7 separate regions of the Homo sapiens genome follow, and regions 2, 3, 4, 5, 6 and 7 are each reported to be linked to region 1. The links are microRNA targets in miRTarBase. Many come from high-throughput screens and were not tested one by one. Region 1 holds a microRNA gene; each other region holds the end of a gene's coding sequence.
The links. The annotated mature microRNA hsa-miR-2054 reads CUGUAAUAUAAAUUUAAUUUAUU and lies in region 1 at 1,622-1,644, opposite strand. An mRNA with a match to its seed (bases 2 to 7 or 8) in the 3' UTR can be bound and repressed. Matches are read on the target gene's strand: a 7mer-m8 pairs with bases 2 to 8, a 7mer-A1 pairs with bases 2 to 7 and ends in A, and an 8mer does both.

Region 2: the mRNA of GSG1 is a reported target of hsa-miR-2054. Seed matches in the 3' UTR shown: 7mer-A1 at 1,388-1,394.
Region 3: the mRNA of N4BP1 is a reported target of hsa-miR-2054. Seed matches in the 3' UTR shown: 7mer-m8 at 407-413.
Region 4: miRTarBase lists NTNG1 as a target of hsa-miR-2054. Seed matches in the 3' UTR shown: 7mer-A1 at 1,782-1,788 and 7mer-A1 at 2,292-2,298.
Region 5: miRTarBase lists MRRF as a target of hsa-miR-2054. The part of its 3' UTR that is shown has no 7-base or 8-base seed match.
Region 6: the mRNA of VIL1 is a reported target of hsa-miR-2054. The part of its 3' UTR that is shown has no 7-base or 8-base seed match.
Region 7: the mRNA of SIKE1 is a reported target of hsa-miR-2054. Seed matches in the 3' UTR shown: 7mer-m8 at 1,695-1,701.

What each region holds. Positions count from the first base shown.
Region 1 is chr4:125,505,819-125,508,902 of GRCh38, reverse strand. MIR2054 (microRNA 2054) reads right to left here and starts at 1,644; the gene lies at 1,596-1,644.
Region 2 is chr12:13,082,336-13,085,419 of GRCh38, reverse strand. It overlaps GSG1 (germ cell associated 1), which reads left to right. Exons shown (of 7, transcript NM_001080555.4): 7 at 177-1,888. The coding sequence ends at 519. It overlaps FAM234B (family with sequence similarity 234 member B), which reads right to left. Exons shown (of 13, transcript NM_020853.2): 13 at 1,971-3,084. Among named protein-coding and RNA genes, the nearest start is that of GSG1, 20 kb to the left of the region's middle. RefSeq lists an enhancer at 1-816.
Region 3 is chr16:48,540,032-48,543,115 of GRCh38, reverse strand. N4BP1 (NEDD4 binding protein 1) reads left to right here. Exons shown (of 7, transcript NM_153029.4): 7 at 1-3,084. The coding sequence ends at 212. Among named protein-coding and RNA genes, the nearest start is that of N4BP1, 69 kb to the left of the region's middle. RefSeq lists enhancers at 494-994, 995-1,495.
Region 4 is chr1:107,480,264-107,483,347 of GRCh38, forward strand. NTNG1 (netrin G1) reads left to right here. Exons shown (of 8, transcript NM_001113226.3): 8 at 348-3,084. The coding sequence ends at 577. Among named protein-coding and RNA genes, the nearest start is that of NTNG1, 340 kb to the left of the region's middle.
Region 5 is chr9:122,322,289-122,325,372 of GRCh38, forward strand. It overlaps MRRF (mitochondrial ribosome recycling factor), which reads left to right. Exons shown (of 7, transcript NM_138777.5): 7 at 252-3,084. The coding sequence ends at 329. Among named protein-coding and RNA genes, the nearest start is that of PTGS1, 47 kb to the right of the region's middle.
Region 6 is chr2:218,449,082-218,452,165 of GRCh38, reverse strand. It overlaps VIL1 (villin 1), which reads right to left. Exons shown (of 20, transcript NM_007127.3): 20 at 1-2,943. The coding sequence ends at 2,830. USP37 (ubiquitin specific peptidase 37) reads left to right here. Exons shown (of 26, transcript NM_020935.3): 26 at 1-1,915. Among named protein-coding and RNA genes, the nearest start is that of VIL1, 32 kb to the right of the region's middle.
Region 7 is chr1:114,771,532-114,774,615 of GRCh38, forward strand. It overlaps SIKE1 (suppressor of IKBKE 1), which reads right to left. Exons shown (of 5, transcript NM_025073.3): 5 at 1-2,841. The coding sequence ends at 2,740. Among named protein-coding and RNA genes, the nearest start is that of SIKE1, 7.6 kb to the right of the region's middle.

The DNA.
Region 1 (3,084 bases):
GATACATATGCTTGGTTTAAATGTGTAGGAATTTTTTTCTTTCACAATAATGTATGAAAAATATTTCATTTCTTGAAAGGATTGCTTTTATATTGACTTGAATTTTTACAAAAATATCTGTTTTTGTCTAGCTTTAAAATCTTTTTATTTCTTAAAGTGAGACTATTTCTTATTAATGAAGTAAAAGTTAGGAATCATTTTCTCTAGATTATTTAGGAAAACTGCTATGAAATGTAAAATTCCAGAACCTCTTTTTACTTGATGTAGTTTTGCAAACAAAACAATTTTACTGAAACTTCCCACCTAAAAACAAAATGCTATGTCTTTAGATATATTCTTTCAAGAAATCACGGGGGACTTATATTGATTTCTTCATAAGGGAAAATTAATATAAATCAAAAATAAACAAGCAACCAAAAAAAACTGAAATCCAGACTTTTCTAACTAAGGAAGGTAATGATAAAGGAAAATGAATAAGTGTTTTCTTTGAATAGCTTAATGAGAGTCGCAGGAAAACAACGACCTATTTTACTATTAAAGTACTTATCTACAAAAAATTGTAATGGAAAAACTTCTGCTGAGCAGGCTAGCAATGGGTATCCCCTAGGACCCAGAACACTTAATGGGTTTTCAGTTCTGTTCTAAATGTTTTTTTTTTTTTTCTTTTTTTGCCTATTCTCAACCAGTGTTGTGCAAAATGTCAGGTTTTCTTCAACTTTCTTTTCTTCCTCCTTAGAAACTCTTGCCCTTTGTCAATTGTTTAGAGGCAGAAAAGATTACATTTCCGTACAAGAAGTCCAGATTAGTTGAAGACACTAGAATTCAAAGCCTGCAAAGATTATACCAAATGTATACGTATGCATTTTTAAACTATCTAGATTGCTCCCAACCTGTAAAATTTCAACAGACTCAAATTATATCTGTGCCTTGGAAATAAAATAGGTGATTAATTAGCCATTAAAGTAGGAGAATCAAAAGATCAGCTGATATCAGGATTAAATTGTCTTTTACCCCAAGAAGTACAATTTTAAAAAAATCTGGTTAGAGACCGATTAATCATGAAGTGACTCTTTTGGAGAAGTTTTGCTCTGAGTCTTTTAGTTTTGATAACTTCATGTCCTTGACTTTTTAAATAACACAATAAACTAGCTAACTTAAATTTTATTTTATTTATTGATATTTATATAAATATATGTCTATATAAATATGTTTATATAAATATATGTTTTATAAATATGTTTATGTAAATATAGCAAATTTATACTTGCTATCAGATTATCTGGTGCATTGCTGATTGCTCTGCCTTTCAGTGAGAGTCACTGGGGAAATTTATATCTCACCAAAAGAAAATTCTGTAATTTTGCTTCTGTTATTGATTATAAAACTGAGCAATATGAGAAACAGGAGAAAACTCAAGTCTACAAGGGACCATCAGTCACTTGGTTTGTCTGAATTAATTGTTATCTTCAGACAACCAGTTTGTGTTGCTCTAGCCTGAGTTTACTTACTAAATTTAGAAGCAGTCTCAAGCATTATTACTGCATATAAAACATAGACAGCTAATTACCCTCTGTTGAATATTTTAATATGCTCCTCTGTAATACATTTTTTAATGATAGAGAATAAATTAAATTTATATTACAGGAAGAAGGAGAATCTACACACTGGTGCTTCTTAATTGTTGCCAAAGGAAACCTAGCAAAAACTCATGGATTCAATGGGAGTATTAATAAGCCAATCAACAGATGGCTAATTGTACCACTGAAAAATGCAAATAAATTAATTCTCACTTGCTCTCATCTATTGGGAGATCAAAGTAGAATTATTAGTTTCCATCTCAATATATTTATATAATTTATACACCAAGATATTTTAGTGAAATAATCTGAAGTAGTAAAAGAGTATAAAGGATTATTCTAACATTTTGATACCACAAAGCATCTCCATTTTGGTATAGTTCTAACACCATCTTATAGTATTAAACTTGAAATTCAGAGCAATTAAATCTTTGTTTTATTAGCTTATTTGTATCAGGCAGGTTACAACGGCATGCTATAGTAGCAAATCATTCCAAGATCTCAATGGCTTAAACAAGGAAGGTTTCTTTGTCACTCATGTTCATGCCCATTGCAGCTCTGCTCCACATCCTCATCATTCCAATACCCCATTGGAAGGGGGAAATCTCTACTAAAGTGGTTCTGATGGCAGAAAGAAAGTAATGACGGAGGATCTAGAGGATGCTCTGAAAATATTTGCTCAGAAGTGTCACATATTACTTCCATACACATTTAACTAGCTAAAGAAATTCACATGGCCAAACTTGATGTCAGTGTGATGAGAAGTAACATTTCCCTACAGGAATAGTTTGTGCAAGAACATATAGCAAAAATCTGTATTATAATGTGGTCAATTCTTTAAGCATTTTTCTAAAACCGATTTATAAAACTTTTCCCCCAGTCCTGAAATAAAGTTCATAAGAAGCTCAGAAAAATTTTGAGTAAATACAGCAAAAAATTAGAAAATATTACAGTAGGTTATGAAAAAATACTGTCATATATTTATGTCCCTTAATCTGGCTTAAAGTCATAAGAAACTGACATTATCATTCTAATACTCTCCATAAGATTGAGGTAAGAATAGGTATTTTTGTTAGACTATTACTCTGCTTACAGCTCTGGTCTAATACTTACATGACTACATTTAGAAGAGTTTAATGAGCATCAGTTCACTTCCTATTCTGATTTTTTTTTACTCAGTCACATTGATAAATACATGGATAAATTATATAAATAAGTGTATTTAATTTTGAATAAATGAATGAAAAGTTTTAGAAATGGGGAAATGGTATAGTTGCCCCAAAATTGTACATAAATAGGTAAGAATAAGAAATGTCTGTATTAAACCCATGTTTTAATCCTAGGATGGACTCCTTTAGAATCATTGGCAATATTTTAAGAGCATCTCACTGTTTACTAAATACCAAAGCAGTGTTAGCACAAAAAGACATTGCTCCAACTATGAAGTCATCCATACAGCCTGCAAATTTGTCACTCAACACAATGAAGACTAGGAACGAAGCTCCAA
Region 2 (3,084 bases), not on the chromosome of region 1:
CTCTTTTTAGAAACCAGTAAGTTCTCTTCCCACAGTTCTTTACCTGAAACATGGTGGAAAGTCCCTAAATCCCTACAAGGCAATAAGCTAGTCCACTAGTAGGAAGAGGTCATGGCATTTTTCTCTCAAGAAAGTCCTATTCTTACTGTCCAATCTTTTTGTGCATTTGTCCCTAGCATGGCCTGGCTCTCCTTCACCTGCTGCATGGCGTCGGCTGTCACCACCTTCAACACGTACACCAGGATGGTGCTGGAGTTCAAGTGCAAGCATAGTAAGAGCTTCAAGGAAAACCCGAACTGCCTACCACATCACCATCAGTGTTTCCCTCGGCGGCTGTCAAGTGCAGCCCCCACCGTGGGTCCTTTGACCAGCTACCACCAGTATCATAATCAGCCCATCCACTCTGTCTCTGAGGGAGTCGACTTCTACTCCGAGCTGCGGAACAAGGGATTTCAAAGAGGGGCCAGCCAGGAGCTGAAAGAAGCAGTTAGGTCATCTGTAGAGGAAGAGCAGTGTTAGGAGTTAAGCGGGTTTGGGGAGTAGGCTTGAGCCCTACCTTACACGTCTGCTGATTATCAACATGTGCTTAAGCCAACATCCGTCTCTTGAGCATGGTTTTTAGAGGCTACGAATAAGGCTATGAATAAGGGTTATCTTTAAGTCCTAAGGGATTCCTGGGTGCCACTGCTCTCTTTTCCTCTACAGCTCCATCTTGTTTCACCCACCCCACATCTCACACATCCAGAATTCCCTTCTTTACTGATAGTTTCTGTGCCAGGTTCTGGGCTAAACCATGGAGATAAAAAGAAGAGTAAAATACACTTCCCGACCTTAAGGATCTGATACATCTAGTTATTGGTCTGGAAATTGGAGAAATGGAGGTGAGCAAATTAACGGTAGTGTGACTGTGGCTCAACTTTCCATGGTACGCGCGAATTGTTCTGGAAGTCACAGATGGGAAGACAGAAGCGCCCCTGAGTGCTTTGTCATATAGCACAGAAGTCCTCCACACTGCCTGGGACAGTGTCCTGCATCCACACAGTAGGTACCCAGTAAAAGTGTTATTAAATATTGTCCCAGGAGCCCTTAGGAGAGTGGTTTAACATGAGAAGGCGCCAACAGCACACAGGGTCAGGGTCACTTCTAGAAATAGCCCACCAAGGCTATTCAGATTGGACTGTGGTTCCCTTCTGGACAGTCACACCAGGGACTTCCCAGTGAACAAGGGGGCATAGGCTCCTCTCTGGATCCCACCTTTTCATCCCTTCTGAGAAATGTACCCTATTATTTCCTTCATAAAGAATGCCACCCATCTGATTCCTCAAGAATCTAGACCTAGAAATACCATTTGACCCAGCCATCCCATTACTGGGTAGATACCCAAAGGATTACAAATCATGCTGCTATAAAGACACATGCACACATATGTTTATTACGGCACTATTTATAATAGCAAAGACTTGGAACCAACCCAAATGTCCATCAGTGATAGACTGGATTAAGAAAATGTGGCACATATACACCATGGAATACTATGCAGCCATAAAGAAGGATGAGTTTATGCCCTTTGTAGGGACATGGATGAAGCTGGAAACCATCATTCTGAGCAAACTATCGCAAGGATAGAAAACCAAACACTGCATATTCTCACTCACAGGTGGGAATTGAACAATAAAAACACTTGGACACAGGGTGGGGAACATCACACACCGGGCCTGTCATGGGGTGGGGGGAGGGGGGAGGGATAGCATTAGGAGATATACTAACGTAAATGACGAGTTAATGGGTGCAGCACACCAACATGGCACATGTATACATATGTAACAAATCTGCACGTTGTGCACATGTACCCTAGAACTTAAAAAAAAAAAAAAAAGAATGCCACCCATCTACTTGCCCGTTCTCTTTTCCATATGGGGAAACAAACCATCCTTGATGACTAAGACGAATGAGAATGGCACACAAGTGTATTCCTGTAGAGTATTTATTTATTTACTCTATAACAGTTCACATTTTAAATAGTGCTTCCTGACAATATACCAGCTGGCTCTTCTTTAATAGGGCAATAAGGATAGCAATTCACATTCAGGGGATTAGTTTCACCATACCACACATTTGGGGGATGGCAAAAACGGGGTCTAAGGAAAAGGGAGGGTGTTTAAGGGAAAGAGGAGGGTAAGACCCTTGCATTTGTAGAAGTCATTACTATTTCTCAGTAGTGGTCATATTGGCTTTGCCGGCAACCTCAGGATGGGATTAGAGAAAGAAAGGAGCATGTCCTATCTTAGACACCTGGGTGGGTGGCTGCCTGCAAGGAGAAGGAGGCTTAGGGACACATTTCACAAGAAACCAGCACCCACATTGGTCAGATGAAGCTTCCTCAATTTTCAGCCACCACTTACACCTTTCTGTACCGGCTGCAAGAGGAAGAAGAAAACTAAACTTATAATGTTGTTTGGCAAGGAGAGATTCAAACTTACCATAGTCAAAAGAATCTATGTTAAGTTAGTTTGCAAATACACCATGAAGAATTCAGGTACATTAAGTTTCTCTAGCTTCCTCTTATCTTTCTGGGATTTGCCCTGCATAAACACAGTCCTCTGCCCAAACAATCCCACCAAAACAGGTCCTCAGAAAACAACTTCATGTTTCACTCCTGCGCAGAGTGGCTGGCTTCCCAGAAAGCCTTAACATAACAGAGAACCAGGTTATGCCCGGACAGCTCAGCCAAACCACAGGACCACCACCCAAGTTTTGGGTATTCAGCTGCCTATAAATTAATTCTTCAAATTCTATACTAAACCAAATTAGGTCCCAGGCCCTTAAACTCAAGTAGATTCAAATCCCAGAAATTATCTGGAATCATTCCCATACTCTAGAAGTATCTTCTTATTCCTCCAAAGTCAAGCTGGACCCACAGATGACTTCCAAACTGTTGAAACAAAATTTGCCTTCAGGATCTTAAGGCAGAGGCACCCAGAAACCTGATAAGGCCAATCTACAGGCCAGGCAACATGCATGCTTGGATCTACTGCTACCAACCTCCTGTTAGGTCATAATGCCTGTCAGTGGGTAATTAACAGA
Region 3 (3,084 bases), not on the chromosome of region 1:
AGCCCCACTTCCCACTGCTGCCAGCCCTCCCCAGTCTCCAGCAGAACCTGCCCATGCCAGCTCAGAGATCTTCTGCAGAAACCAACGAGCTGAGGGAAGCCCTTCTGAAGATCTTCCCTGACTCAGAGCAAAGACTGAAAATAGACCAGATCTTGGTGGCCCACCCATACATGAAAGATCTAAATGCGCTTTCTGCCATGGTGTTGGATTGAAGATTGTGCTGAGCGCTGAGCTTGCGCTCAGGGCTGGCTGATCAAACTCAAGCTCACACCTGTACCTGATGGGAATGAACATAATGTGAAGAAACTTATTTCCCAGTGTAAACGCAGTTGTACAGAAAAAAAATGTTTTGGGTATAAATCTGGGTTTTCAAAACCAGCTTTTTTCTATATATAAATTATGCTGCTATTACAGATTTAACATTTTCTGTTAAAGGAAAGTCTACATTTTCTGCCTGTTCAGAACTGTTTAATAGCAGTTACTCTTGAGTGTATTTACCTTTTTATGTTTTTTAAACTATTTTCCTTAAAGCCGAAAATATTGACAAATGGATATGGTTAGCCTTTATAAATAAATAAAAAAAAAAGTGTTGCTTTCTTAAGGAAAGCAAGACGTCTTAAAGTATATTTTCTTGAGATGAGTATGTCCCATCACTACCATGAAGTGTGCTCACCCTTCCAGCCTCCTCTGCCCTCACCCCCGGAGTTAAAGTGGGTAAGAGTTGGTTTGTTCTGCAGTCTTTGGTTGGAGTGTTGTGAAAGTGGACCCGCGGTGCCACTAGATGGCACTTGGTGCCTAGCCATGGTGAATGACCAGGGCGAAGTTAGTCTCACAGAATACCAGGGCTAGAAGACATCGTGGAGCCCATGGAGTCCCACCCTCCTTCCCCCTTCCACCCTGCGCAAAAGGGGACGGCCCAGTGTGCACGCCGTCCGGCCATGCCCACAGCCACAGCCACAGCTGAGGAGTGGCCGGGCAGGCAGCAGGCTCCCCAGCCAGGGCTTGACACGCCCACAGTCAGGGGCCTCCACATGCCTGGCCTGGCTCTGGAAGTCACGTCTTAGCTTCTGAACACCGTAGCGGGTTATGAGGAAGTTTAATGAAGAGCCCGGTCACTGTGGCCATCTTGTGTCCCCAACTGCAGGAGACGCCCTGATGTGGAGTTTGTACAGCTTTGCCAAAAAATGGTTTTCTATTCTCAAAAGTGACCCAAGCCAATAAATAGCATTAGTAGCTTCTGTGGGGGGATCCCAGAGCCCCTGTATTTATTTTCCCTGTGTTTGTCTCTAGTGTCCTCCTAAACAGCCTTTCCTGTGAGTCTTTCTCAGAATTGATATCTTAATATTGTCTGTTCTAGGTGTTGCCCAAATTCAGTGTCAGTGAAGTTCTTTTCCTGGGCAATCTTAACATCTTTACTCTTATTGTCTGGACCTTCAAAGGGCTTTGTATTTTACACCTGCGCCCCCAGGCTGCTCACAGTCGGCTTGCTGCCTGTCCTGCCTGTCCGGATCTTGTCTCCTAGTCCTGAGGAGCGGAGGCTGAGAACTCAGTGCTGGTTTGTAAATGGTGAGGGGACTTGGGGGCATCCCAGAGTGCTCCCTCCAGGCCTGCTTCTTGGTTTTGTTTGATCACTGCGTTCTTCAAGGGATGAATCCAGAGCCCTCCATGAGGCCAAGCTTGTCCTTCAATCATGTTTCCTCTCAGATGCGTCCGTGATGCCTCCTAATGTGGAACTGGTTGTCCATTGTTTGGGCCTATGGCCAAGTCACCCAGCTGTGGAAGCAGAGGTAGAAGACGAGGCCAGCCAGGAGGGCGACTTCAGTCACAGCTCCCATGCCTCAGCTTTGTACCTGTTTTCAAAAGCACAACTGAGGTGTGCGGGCTGGAGCTGTCTTGCAGTGATTCTGGCCTTCTGGCTCATGGTTCAGTCCAGCAGCCTGGCTGACCCACTATTTCTCCTCTGCTTCAGAGGAAACCCAGGAAATGCCCTTACTGCCAGGCTGAGTCTCCACCCATGCTGGTTGGTGCTGGCTAGGCTGAGGGGGCCACCACTTTTCCTGGCTAGAAGCTACTTGACCTTTGATGTTTGAGTTCTGTAAGTCTTCGTGTTCTGACTTACTGCTTCAGAGGGATTGGCCTGTCCCCTTTCCCTTTCTCGGCTATGGGAAGGAAGGATTGCTCATTGGTTGCCTTCATCAGTTACAGCATGAGACGGAATTCATCATTCCTTCCGAAACCCCTGATATTTAATATTTAATATTTAAAAACCCAAATTATCAAACCATTAAGAACTCATTACTGGTTCTCAGCCTCCTCCAGTACTAGCCTCAGTGTGGCTGCTGCATAAGTATCTGTAGCCTGTCTACCTCCTGCAGTGGGGCCGCTCGCCTCTTCCCTGTCTACTGCTCAGGCTCTCCCACTTCGTGGCATCCATGTAAAGTAGGTGGCAGGGCAGAGATGTCACTCTCATTCAACAGGGAGGATGTCTGTTGCTCAGAGAGGTTGTCCTGAGGGGCTGGGTGATTCCTGGGCCTACATTCTTCCCGAGGCTCCAGGCCGCTGTCTCTGGAAGTAAAAGAGCCTTGTCTGACCTTAATGCAAGCAGTCTGTTTGAACCCCTGTAGGCTGCATTCAGGAGACAGAAGGTGTCTGGGCCATCCTGGGCGGCCGGTCAGCGTTGCTAGGCAGGCTCGGCTGTCTGGCCGGGACTTGGGCCTGGGTGGCTTTTGAGACCAGTGAAGAAGGGAGAGCCGGCCTCATGCCGATGCGGCTTGTGGCACGGCTGGGATGTGAGGGAGGACTCAGATCTACACACAGAAACCCCTCTTCTCCCCGCCCTCCCCCAGCTCCTACCTGCCTCCCACGCCTCAGGTGTGGCTGCCTGTGGGACCATCCCCCAACCCCTTTCCTCGCACCTCCTTGTCCTCACCCAGTTCCTGCAGTGTCTCTGACCCACGCCTCCCGCCTCCTGGCCGACTTGCCCAGGAGGTGTCTCTGGCTCACCTCCGTCTGTTCATCACCTTCCTCCCCAGTGTTTCCACTTATCTTGGATGTTTTAGATTGAAACAGCCTGATTCCCGGAAG
Region 4 (3,084 bases), not on the chromosome of region 1:
AAAACCCAAAAGATCACAACAGGTCCCAGTTCCATGAAGAAAAGATACTGCCAAACTAGGACTATTGCATTACTTTGTATTCTATAGCCTGAAATGGACAATGATAACATCCAAGATTGCAGCAAAAATCTATATGAAAAGGACTAATATGATAAAAACAAAGGCAGAAAACTACATTTGTTTGGAAATTGGAGTCACGGGCTTCGTTTGTGGAGGGGAGGGGGGAGCACAAAGATCGATAGAGATTTTTTTTTTAGGCTGAAAACATGATGTACCAGATGAACTTCAATTGATTCTGCTTCTCCTCCCCGCGCCCACCCACCCCTACCTTCCCCCTCATTCTGCAGCGAATGTCTGCGACAACGAGCTCCTGCACTGCCAGAACGGAGGGACGTGCCACAACAACGTGCGCTGCCTGTGCCCGGCCGCATACACGGGCATCCTCTGCGAGAAGCTGCGGTGCGAGGAGGCTGGCAGCTGCGGCTCCGACTCTGGCCAGGGCGCGCCCCCGCACGGCTCCCCAGCGCTGCTGCTGCTGACCACGCTGCTGGGAACCGCCAGCCCCCTGGTGTTCTAGGTGTCACCTCCAGCCACACCGGACGGGCCTGTGCCGTGGGGAAGCAGACACAACCCAAACATTTGCTACTAACATAGGAAACACACACATACAGACACCCCCACTCAGACAGTGTACAAACTAAGAAGGCCTAACTGAACTAAGCCATATTTATCACCCGTGGACAGCACATCCGAGTCAAGACTGTTAATTTCTGACTCCAGAGGAGTTGGCAGCTGTTGATATTATCACTGCAAATCACATTGCCAGCTGCAGAGCATATTGTGGATTGGAAAGGCTGCGACAGCCCCCCAAACAGGAAAGACAAAAAACAAACAAATCAACCGACCTAAAAACATTGGCTACTCTAGCGTGGTGCGCCCTAGTACGACTCCGCCCAGTGTGTGGACCAACCAAATAGCATTCTTTGCTGTCAGGTGCATTGTGGGCATAAGGAAATCTGTTACAAGCTGCCATATTGGCCTGCTTCCGTCCCTGAATCCCTTCCAACCTGTGCTTTAGTGAACGTTGCTCTGTAACCCTTGTTGGTTGAAAGATTTCTTTGTCTGATGTTAGTGATGCACATGTGTAACAGCCCCCTCTAAAAGCGCAAGCCAGTCATACCCCTGTATATCTTAGCAGCACTGAGTCCAGTGCGAGCACACACCCACTATACAAGAGTGGCTATAGGAAAAAAGAAAGTGTATCTATCCTTTTGTATTCAAATGAAGTTATTTTTCTTGAACTACTGTAATATGTAGATTTTTTGTATTATTGCCAATTTGTGTTACCAGACAATCTGTTAATGTATCTAATTCGAATCAGCAAAGACTGACATTTTATTTTGTCCTCTTTCGTTCTGTTTTGTTTCACTGTGCAGAGATTTCTCTGTAAGGGCAACGAACGTGCTGGCATCAAAGAATATCAGTTTACATATATAACAAGTGTAATAAGATTCCACCAAAGGACATTCTAAATGTTTTCTTGTTGCTTTAACACTGGAAGATTTAAAGAATAAAAACTCCTGCATAAACGATTTCAGGAATTTGTATTGCAATTTCTTAAGATGAAAGGAACAGCCACCAAGCAGTTTCACACTCACTTTACTGATTTCTGTGTGGACTGAGTACATTCAGCTGACGAATTTAGTTCCCAGGAAGATGGATTGATGTTCACTAGCTTGGACAACTTCTGCAAAATATGAGACTATTTCCACTTGGGAAAAATTACAACAGCAAAAAAAAAAAAAAAAAAAAAAAAAAATCTAAGTGATTGCCAAGATTATGCCAAAGCCTGTTGGCAGAGTACTAAGAGACTTTTATTTTTAAGTCATGCTATTTTCACAGATTGATGGTGATCATGTGACTCTAGGGATGCTGATCTATGTATCTTTCCAAATACAGTGTTTACATGGAGTATCACAAGACGCAACCTGGGGAACCAGGAAGGGAGCAGGGAAATTGAGTGATTTGCAATTTGACTTTGAATATATTCAGACTTAAGTATTTAGAGGAAATATCAAAATATAAAGCAGCAAGTAGACATAACTGCTGTTCCTGAGAATAAAGTTTGTTTTAAGTGCTGCCCAAGGTGTAATAAATTCTTGTTTCTGCCTTTTATTAGGCCAATTACTGTGCAAGACAGCAAGGGGAGGCAGGTGGGGAAGAACCTTTGCAAAGTTTCAAAGAGGCTAAGACAGTGTGCATTTCGTTCCCAGCACACTGTTGTCCTACAGATTACAAGTGTATTAGCAGCAGCATCTCCTGGAATCAAAAACAATTATCAGCCCGAACCAGAGTCTTAAGGACAATGAAATTCTACATGACTTGGTAGAACAATAACCTATGATAGTGTAAGGTCAGAAACCTAGTTCCAGTCTGAATTCTTCACCCTGCTGCCACTCCTTGCTGAAACAGGGAAGGGGGGAGGAATGTCTCCTGATAAATAACCTGGGTAAAAACTAGATGAAGGAACAGCATGTCTTATTGGTTTTGTTCCCAGAAAAGCCAATTCGAAGAAGGCAATAAAAGGTAAACAGGTAATGCCTGTGCTGCCTGCCACCCCACGTCTAAGTCTATTGAATGTTTGTTATTCAAACCAACAGTCTCTTTTGATGTAAGAAATAAGGAAAGATGGAAATAAATTAGAGCTTAGGCTTAGTGCCAGAGTGGCCAACCAGAAATTGGAGATTTACGTTGGAAGCATAAATAGAAAATTATATTTCAGGCTCACCAAAGAAACACATGAAAATGCTGATAACATAGGGAGTTTGAGATTATTTATAATGAGGTGGATTTCTGATATTAAAATTAGAGTTTAAGTTGTCTTATAGTTTATTAGCACAAACCAAAGGCAGCCCATGTTATTTCTGGCAAAGATGCACTTTATCGTTATCTGCTCATGGCTTTGTCGCAACGCTCAGGAATCAGACACTGCACACTTCAATAGTTGGGATTCCAAAAGCTAATTCTAAAATTTAATGAAGGCCTGATTTAAACTGATTCATCTGCATTTTATCTTTATGAGGC
Region 5 (3,084 bases), not on the chromosome of region 1:
GGAGGCGGAGCTTGCAGTGAGCCGAGATTGCACCACTGCACTCCAGCCTGGGCGACAGAGCGAGACTTTGTCTCAAAAAAAAAAAAAGAATGTATATATAAAGTTCTTAGTACAGTGCCTGACTGGTACTTAATGTGAACTTTTGTCACTATTATTATTTCTCACATAACCTTTTCATGTTTCTGGAATATTCATCCCCCTACCCTTTTCCAGCCCCATTAATCAGGCTGTCTCATTTTGTGTTCTTGCAGATCAGCCAAATGGCCGATGACACAGTGGCAGAACTGGACAGGCATCTGGCAGTGAAGACCAAAGAACTCCTTGGATGAAAGTCCACTGGGGCCAGCAATACTCCAGAGCCCAGTTTCTGCTGGATCCCATGGGTGGCACATTGGGACTTCTCTCCCTCCCCCATCTACACAGAAGACTGTCACCATGCTGACAGAAGCCTGTCCTTGTAAGGCCCAGCCTTCCAGGGGAACACTCAGACATGTTCATTCTCTTCCTGCTTCTGCTCTGGGCCGGTGGGTGGCTCTCAGAAAATACTTGCTGCTGGCAAAAGGCCTGTACTCAGGCATTTGCTTTGACTTGATGTTGCCAAGGGACTGAGGCCATTGGCAGGCTTAGTACCACCTGCTCCTCATCTTAGGAGTCTCCTTTTCAAATAATTAGGCTCTGTTCCCATTTTAAAACTCTGATATTGGCCTTCACCTGTGACTGGACACTTTACTAGAGGCCCATTTTCACTAAACAATAAAATCTAAATAAATTGGAAGGAATAACAACCACAAAGGAAAGAATAGAGTTGGTCTGGATTGATGATCACTGAGGATCTGTATGTGAGGCACCCATAACAGTAGTTTTGCCTGTGAGTCGTCTTCACACATGCTGTTTTCTCTGCCTGGCTCTCTCTTCCCCTCCTTACCTGGCCAGTCCTGTTTATCATCAGGCCTTGTCTTGGATATCACGTCCTCTGGGAAGTCTTCTTTTCCCCTCTAACCTAGGACCCTCATTACCGGCTCTCATAGCACAGTCTACTGCTTTGTACGAATTCTAAGTATTCTTGTTGCACTTAATTAGCCTGTATATCCTCAGAACTTTGTGTAATGCCTGGAGCATAGTAGGCAGTCATATGTTGTATCGTGAATAAATTGCACATAGTAGCTACCCAGCAAATGCTGACTTCTTTTCTTTCTAGTCTTAACACTCCCTTTCTATCATTTTCCACTCTTGTACTTGTTCTCAACATTTACTTGGTAGTGACATACCTTTCCTGCAGGGCCTGCCCATTGTTGACAGACAAGTAGTTTATTGTGGCTTATCTTCGGATACTGGGTTATTAGGTTTTTTTCCCTCCAATTATTTTTTATTCATTCATTCATTCCTAATATAGCCATTATGAGTTAGGTATAGTTCTAGGCATTATTTATAATCTTGACAGTAAACTTAAGAGATGTGTATTATCTTCATTTACAAATAGGAAAACTAAGTCTTGACAGTATTAGGTAATTTGCCCAAAGTAACAAAGCAAAGCTGATCAGTGGTAGAAGGTTTTCATGATTCATTGTCAGCGTCATTTACATAGAGGTGAAGTTTCTTGTGCAGGGTTACACACCTAGCAAGTAGCAGAGCTGGCATTCAAATTGAGGCCTGATGTGCTAATGTAAAAGGAAAAAAACAAACTTTTTTTCCTTTTGTACTTTCACACTCAACATGGAACACTTCTGTGACAAGGTGTGTGAGTTTGTTTCCCCCACACACCAAGCAATTCTCCAGCAGACACCAACTGGGTATCCTATAATTCAATTCATTTCTGACATTACCTGGAAATAGTGTCAGATCCCACAGGTTGAGGGCTCCATCTCCCAAGACTGCCAACACTTTTGATGCCAGTCATGAGTCTGGGCCACCCATACTCCTGACTGACCAACTACAAACTAGAGTCCTTGATTTCCTTTGGTTCAGTTAATTTCCTAGGACAGCTCACACAACTCAGGGAAACACGTTCACTGGTTTATTATAAAAGATACAGCTGAACAGCCCAATGAAGGAGGTACACAGGGCAAGGTTGAGGGAGAGGGAGAGGGTGTGGAGCTTCCATGCCTTCTCTGGGCTCACACTCTCTCAGCACCTCACCAATCTGGAAGGAACCACTGTGTCCTGCTGCCTTCATTAGCATTTAGTGAGCACCAATTGTTTGTCAGGTGCTGAACTATGTACTGGCAATACAAAAATGGGAAAGATATGACCCCTGTTTTGGGGGGGTACATAGTGCACTGAACTAAATTGCTGTCTATAATAATCTATTGGGTGGAAAAGTAGGAAGTTCATTCCAGTTCTGCAAGGTGTCTGCTTTCAGAATGGAGCCCACTTTGGTGGTGGCAAGGCCTGGCTGAGTTCTTTCAAAGCAACATCCAACTTCTCTTTGCTCTTTGACTTCCTCCAGATTCTCTCCTGTGCTGGAGGTAATAAGGGTTGCACTTCCCTCTTTACTTACACTGGTGAAACATGCAGTGAGGATTCAAGGTCAAAATTGGGTCAAAGTTAAACTAACACAGTCTCCTGCCCCACTTACCTGTCCTCTAACCCCATCCACCAGCCCTAAGTGGTCATCACATGATCAGAAGTCAGCTGGGGGAAGAGCAGGGATAGATAGAGCAATTAAGGAGCCTCTTTTGGGGTAAGCCACATGACAGGGGCTTTGCAACAGTCTTTCATGAGTGGCCGAAATCCCCCACTCACTGCAAATGTGCTTCTCAAAGATGCAGGATTTTTTAATAAACAGAGGAAATGATAAATTATGTTGTAATTCCACTCCAAAGGCATTTGGTTCTTAACAGCCAAATCCTCTGTAGTCTTTAAATAAACAAAAACTTATTTGGTGAACAGACAGGGAGGAAAATGAAAGATTTTCTGTACTTGGGTTCCACATGTCAACAATTTCTCTCCTGTGTGTATGTTGGCCAAAGCTGTATCATGATAAATGAATAAAGGAAAACCTCGAGCCCAGGGCAGTCAGACAGCTCAGCAAATGGCTTTCAGATGATTACTCAATTTCAGTTGACATTTATCAAAGAGTTTCTC
Region 6 (3,084 bases), not on the chromosome of region 1:
TTCTAGATACAACCTTTTGATCTTTGTTGGAATTTTAAGGGAAAAATGAACTAAACTTCATATTTGTTGATTTTAATCACCTAATAGTACTGAAGGTTGGAAAGTTGCATGTGGCTGGATGCTGTTAATTTCTTTAATAGCCATGACTATAATTTAAGCCTATGAGAAGATAGACTGTTTCGTAGGGATATATTCACATGTGTGTGCACACTCATGAGTTTTGTCTCAGCAGGATAGAATAAGCAAATCCATGAACTGGTCTTCTATTAATACTTTGATTCTAAAAATTATTTGTTTACTTGCTATGGTCTGTTCATTCTGGGCCTAACCTTAAAGGCTCAATAACAAATACAACAAATGTAAATATGTTTACATTTTAAGACATATGCAGTGGTTCTTACAGATCAGTTAATTAACTCCAGAAAGCAAATGTTAGACTACACATTTATTTTTCTCCTTGATCAAGTATAAAATTCTGAAACAGAGGCTTTAAAATTTAAAACCTCAGCAAAATAATCCATGAATTTACTGATTCTTCTGTATCGTGTGTAGTTACCATTATGTAACTATACACACATACAGCTACGGATATAATGAAAATTATCTGCAAACACCTAAATTAAAGAGAAAAAAAAGTAGTTTGTAAACTCATTTGTGATCTACTGAAAAGAGGTTATATTAAAGCAAATTAAAATATTTTCCTTCTCTGTCCTCTGAAATGACTGCAGTAGATACTCTTAGTTATCCCATTTAGGGTGGTTGGAGGGCCTTTTTAATTTAATTGACCCCCCGAGGTGGTCTTTTGTTTTAAACAGGGGGCAACAGCTGGATCTCCAAGTACATATGGATTTTGTATATATAGGAGATTTTTAGAAAAATCAACAACCTAACACCAGATTCAAGTCACATAAAAGTGTTCCAATAAAATGGATGGATGTCTTTTTCCTCCCCATTTTGCTTTATACTGAGTAATGCACTCTTGCAAGTGTATACAAAAACTAAATAGACTTCTGCCCTCCAACATCTTTTTATTGCATTACTTCAAAATCCTAATTTTGTCTCTACTGATATGTCTTATTAACATCTGAAAAAATATATATTTTTTATTGGAAAATTCTAATTTGTTAGGCCTTGAAAGTTTTGTGACAATTATTTTGCTGTGTTTAACCACAATCATTCACCTTATGGCATGCTTTGATTACTAGACTTCAGGCAGTCTCATTCATTGTATCATACTTACACACAATTAGTAAGTTGTCTCCATGTGTGCTATATGTCTGAGGTGTATGGAGTTTTTATTTAAAAAGTGTGCCAGTCTGAATATAAGCATTTGATTTTGTAACATTGGACTTTTCTTAAAAGTACAGAGGTTCAAAGTATAGGTATGTCCATTGGCATAAGAATAGAGTGGGTGAGGGTCTGGACCAGGTTCCAGGTTGGTCCAGTCAGATGCCAGAACAAAGAAGAACAGTCAACTAAACTGGTCTACTTCAAAAATAGTGGGCCTGTGTGAAGAGTGAGACCACATGTGGGTGTGCACACCTCTTGTCCCCAGGTTTCCCTCCCTTTGAGCTTTTCTTTCCCTCCCTAACTTCTCTGGCCTATTGTCATTGTTGTTTCTTTAAACTTAAGGAGAGAAAAACAAAAATGAGATTCCTACACTTTGCCTAATTGAGCCACTACCAGGTTTTCTGGCAGCTGTGGCCACATTATTTGTGAGATGATTTTTTTTCTTTATGTTCAGAGTGACTTTTGATTCTGATTCTTTATGTTTTGTATGGAGCGGCACTTTTATCTGTGTTTTAGCAGAACTGTTCCTCTGTATCCTTTACGGTTTTTCTTTGTTTTTGTTTCCTTTTTAAATTATGCATAGAGTTTTTTTGTGTGTATGAAATTAAAGCCTTTATTAACCTTCTTTGATTTGACTGTTATTTCTGAAAAGGACACATTCTTGCTGATACTTGTAACAACCTGTTCAAAGTTGTGGAAATCACCTTCTGTTGGCTTTCTGACATGGACTTCCTTGCAGCACTGTTACTTCTTAAAAGGAACAGAATGGCAAACCAGTGTCTGGCCGTAGTCCCCATTGATTCCTGTTATTTTCATCTGAGGAGCCTGTGAAGCTTTGCAGAGGCTTCTGGGTAAGTTTGTAAACCTAGCATTGGCCTTCACTAGGCTCTTGCTTTGCCTCATTATTAAGGGTTGGGAGAGGGAGTGAAGTAGCATATGCATTTCATACTTGCCTTTAGGTCTCAAGCCTAGCCCCAGTGGAAGTGCTGCTCTCACTGGTACTGTTTGGAATTTGTGAAACCTCTTAAGAGGGTAGTCTTGTGGACCATTCAACTCTCCTTCAGCCCTTTAACTTACCCACTGAGTAAGGCAGTAAGGAAAGTATATGTGAAAAGGAAAAGCTGTTACTCTGGGGAAGATGTAAACCTGCAAAGTGCTTCAGCCTACCTGCCATAGATAAAAATGAGTCATGATAGAGGACAAGCTAGGGTAGTGCCTCAGAACTCTAATGTTCCATGGAGTGTTTGTGCTCTTCTAAGAAGAGAAAACTATAGGAGTATTAAAATTGATGCAATACCTCAGGATAGAAACAATCTAGCGACCTTAGAAGTTGAAATGAGGACCATAGGCTCCTTTTGGGGTATCATCTTTCTGAAGGAATAGGTACATTATTAAACAAAACTGGCATTTGCCACAGAAGTTTGTGCTCATAGGCACATCTGCAAAATTTCACTTCAATTGGTGTAGGACTAATATCGGTGAGAAAATGAGACCCTACAATCAGGGTAGGGTACTGCTTTACAACCACAGCTACTCTTCTCAAAATAGTCCTTTTTCTTTCTTGAGGTTTTGTTGCTTCCATCGAGGCAGAGCAGAGAAGGCAGCTGGAGTCATCCCAAAGGCCTGAGTGAAATCTTCAATGGACAGGTGTTCCTAGAAGAAGAGAGGGACCAGAGGGCAAAGGTCACATATCCTTCCTTCCTCCCTCACCCTCAGGCACCGTTTGCTCTGATGAGTCATAGATGTGGTATATAATCAAATAAATGAAGAGTAAACAGAAGCAGTGTCAGGAGA
Region 7 (3,084 bases), not on the chromosome of region 1:
ATAATACAGTACCTGACAGGTAGTAAAGCACTCAATAGATGGTAGCTATTATTGGCAATACCATACATACTTTGCTTTTGTGGCACCAAAGTTTTCTATTTCCCTCCTACCCATTTATTATCTCTATTGAATTCTCAAGTTTAAAGTCCCTCTTCTGTATCTTATACATACTATAATGGATTTATCACACTGCATTATAATTTTATATATATACTTGTCTCCTGTACCAGACTTTTTCATTTTTAAATTCATAAGTACTAATGAAGTGGTTGGCACATAGACTATTTTCTTTTTCATCTTTTAGAGTGCTAACTATTACACAATGGGGCCTAGACTAGATATTTTAAAATCAGTGTCTTTAGGAATTGTTTGAGATGATTAGAATACAAATTCTTGAACTTCATCACCAAGTTTCTATTTCAGTAGGTCAGGGAAGCACATTTTGAAGAACACTAAAATAGACCTTCAATGTTTGAATCCAATTATGCATAAGGTATTAATATAAGAATTATACATAAGATATTGATATAATACTACACTAATATAAGGTACTATTTGTAGAGTTATACACTGCTGAATATACTGTGCTAATTACAAAGTATTTATGACTCTTGTGAGGACCACTTGACAAGGTTGCTATATATATGTAAAAAAACCCTCTGCACTTCCTCATTTGACTTACTACTGAGTAAAATTAGCTTATCTTCTCAAAATGCAGTTTTTGTTAGAAAATATAATTTTGAACTAAGATTTTTGCAAACCAGGCAAGTTCTTCATCCACTCAAGGAGAAACTTTAAAATCCACTTAAAATGAAGAGCATTCCTCCCCGACTCAATTTTCTAACTACATATTATCTTCATAGCATTAACACCAGCCAGAATTTATATTATGTAGAGCACTAAAAGCTTCTTAGACTTGTACCTCAGGCTTTTAATTTTGCAGGGGGAAAAGTTAGTATGTCGATTTATCCTAACACTTGAGATATAAAGAACTTTATAAACAGCTCTAAAGGAACATAAAGCACATAAAGGGACACCATATTATACCTTGATTTGATTACTTCATCATTTTCACTGAAATCTGGCCATGGTAGGTTTGGCCGTGGCTGCCAAATGGTATAGAGTACCTGCCTCTTGAATGGATTTATGGGGTCACTTAAGGTATACTTCGAGGCAGATGGCTGGGCTAATAGTTACTTACTTACTCTTGGGAAATGAAATAAAAAATGCTCACACTTGGAAGTGTTTTTTTTGTCAAATTCTATGCAGGATATCAAACAGAAATTTGAAAAATTCTTAAATGACATATACCTATTCATTAACACCCACTGCTCTAGATGACATCCATTAGTTATTACTGGGATCAGATGCTTTTAGGACATCTTTAAAATATTTTGTTATTTTAACTGTAGTTCTTTATAGCATTACGAAAGAAATATCACTCACATAAAGCACTAACAACTCTTTTTAGTACTGTGTCTCTCCCATGCAGTATGGTGCTTAATGTTACTGGAAAATATTGACAGGTTTAGCATTATTTCAACTAATTCTGGGCAAATCTAAATAGAATAGTATAACATGAAGAAATTTATAAATTTGAAATGTGAGTAAACTGGGACGGGAATGAGTTGATGAGTGAACCCAGTTGACCACTGGGCATTTGAATCTCAATGTTGCCTACACAGCATTATGAGTGTAATAATTTTCATTAGGTAACAAAACTGCTTCCTCACCTTTTTATATAGCTTAAACAAAAAAAAAGAAAAAAGATAAAAAAAAACCCTGCTTCTATGTAAACAAAAAAAAAGAAAGCCAACTATTAGTGCTAGGAATGAAAGACATCCAATCCAAGTAAGTGATGGTTCTTAACTATAAAATGGAAATTGTATAAAAATTAAAATAGAATGTAGAACTAGTAGGATAACATTGAAAAACTGACTACTTATATTTGTTTTTTTTATTTTGTGTGTGTTTTTGGCTGATTATATTTAATAAAAGCTACTTTTAGTATTTGAACTAAGTGCACATGTGTGCATTCACATACACAGGACAAGCTCCTCAGCTTTGAACAATATGAACTTTGGACAATATGACAACTATAGCATCACTGGGCAAAAAAAATAGCTGACTTATTTCCAAGTGTGTTTCCTGGGACTAGCAGTAGGTTCTCTCAAATTAAAAGTAAAGGCACCAGGCTATAAAGTGCCAATTCTTAGCACCAGAGAGACTTAAAATGTCACAGGTGAATGACATTACAAATCAGAGAATCTGCTGATCTAGTTCTGTGGAATTGTATTATTTTTGTCAAATGGAAAAAAAAAATCAAGGTTTATGCCAAATAGATTTAAACAGTTAAATCTTTCCTAAAATTTCCTAGAAGTGTATTTTACAATGCTATGTAAAATAAATTGCTGGCTTATAAAAAATGCTCAAAGTTTCAGAGATGTGAAAAATAACAAAGAACTGAAAACATAGTTTATATAAATCAAGGTCCCAGAAATGAAAATTAAAAGTAGTCTCTTTGAGAAAGGAATGGTGAAATTCAGCATGTAGTATTCACATTAACACATCTGAGAACTGTGGACAGCCAATATTGACTGGAATTCTAAATTGCCACCTGATACCTTTAATTAAGATTAAATCAAATCTGAGGCAAGACACTTAATGGACAGTACTTGAATGGGAAGACAGTAACTTCCTTCCTTGATAGACAATCTCCAGCCATCATTCAGAGTTCAGTTATTTGATGGCTTGGGAAGCAGTGTCCATTGAGTTTTCCTTTCTGGCTTGAAGAGACTCACTGCTGATGGACAATAATTCTCGAAGTTCCTTATTTTCAAGCTGGAAAAAAAAAGGCATGTTTATTTCTGGTATTTTTACTGTCCAACTGCATTACAACAACACATTATTTTGAGCCAGGAGCAGAAAACATTATTTTAATTTTAAAAAATTTATGGAAACAAAAAATCCACTAGTTGAGAATTTCCTTAAATACTACTTTATTCATTTAACAAACATTTACATGTAGGATGTAGGCAATGATACTCTTTTGTAGTAGTAATTTACTGAGTAATTTCTATATAC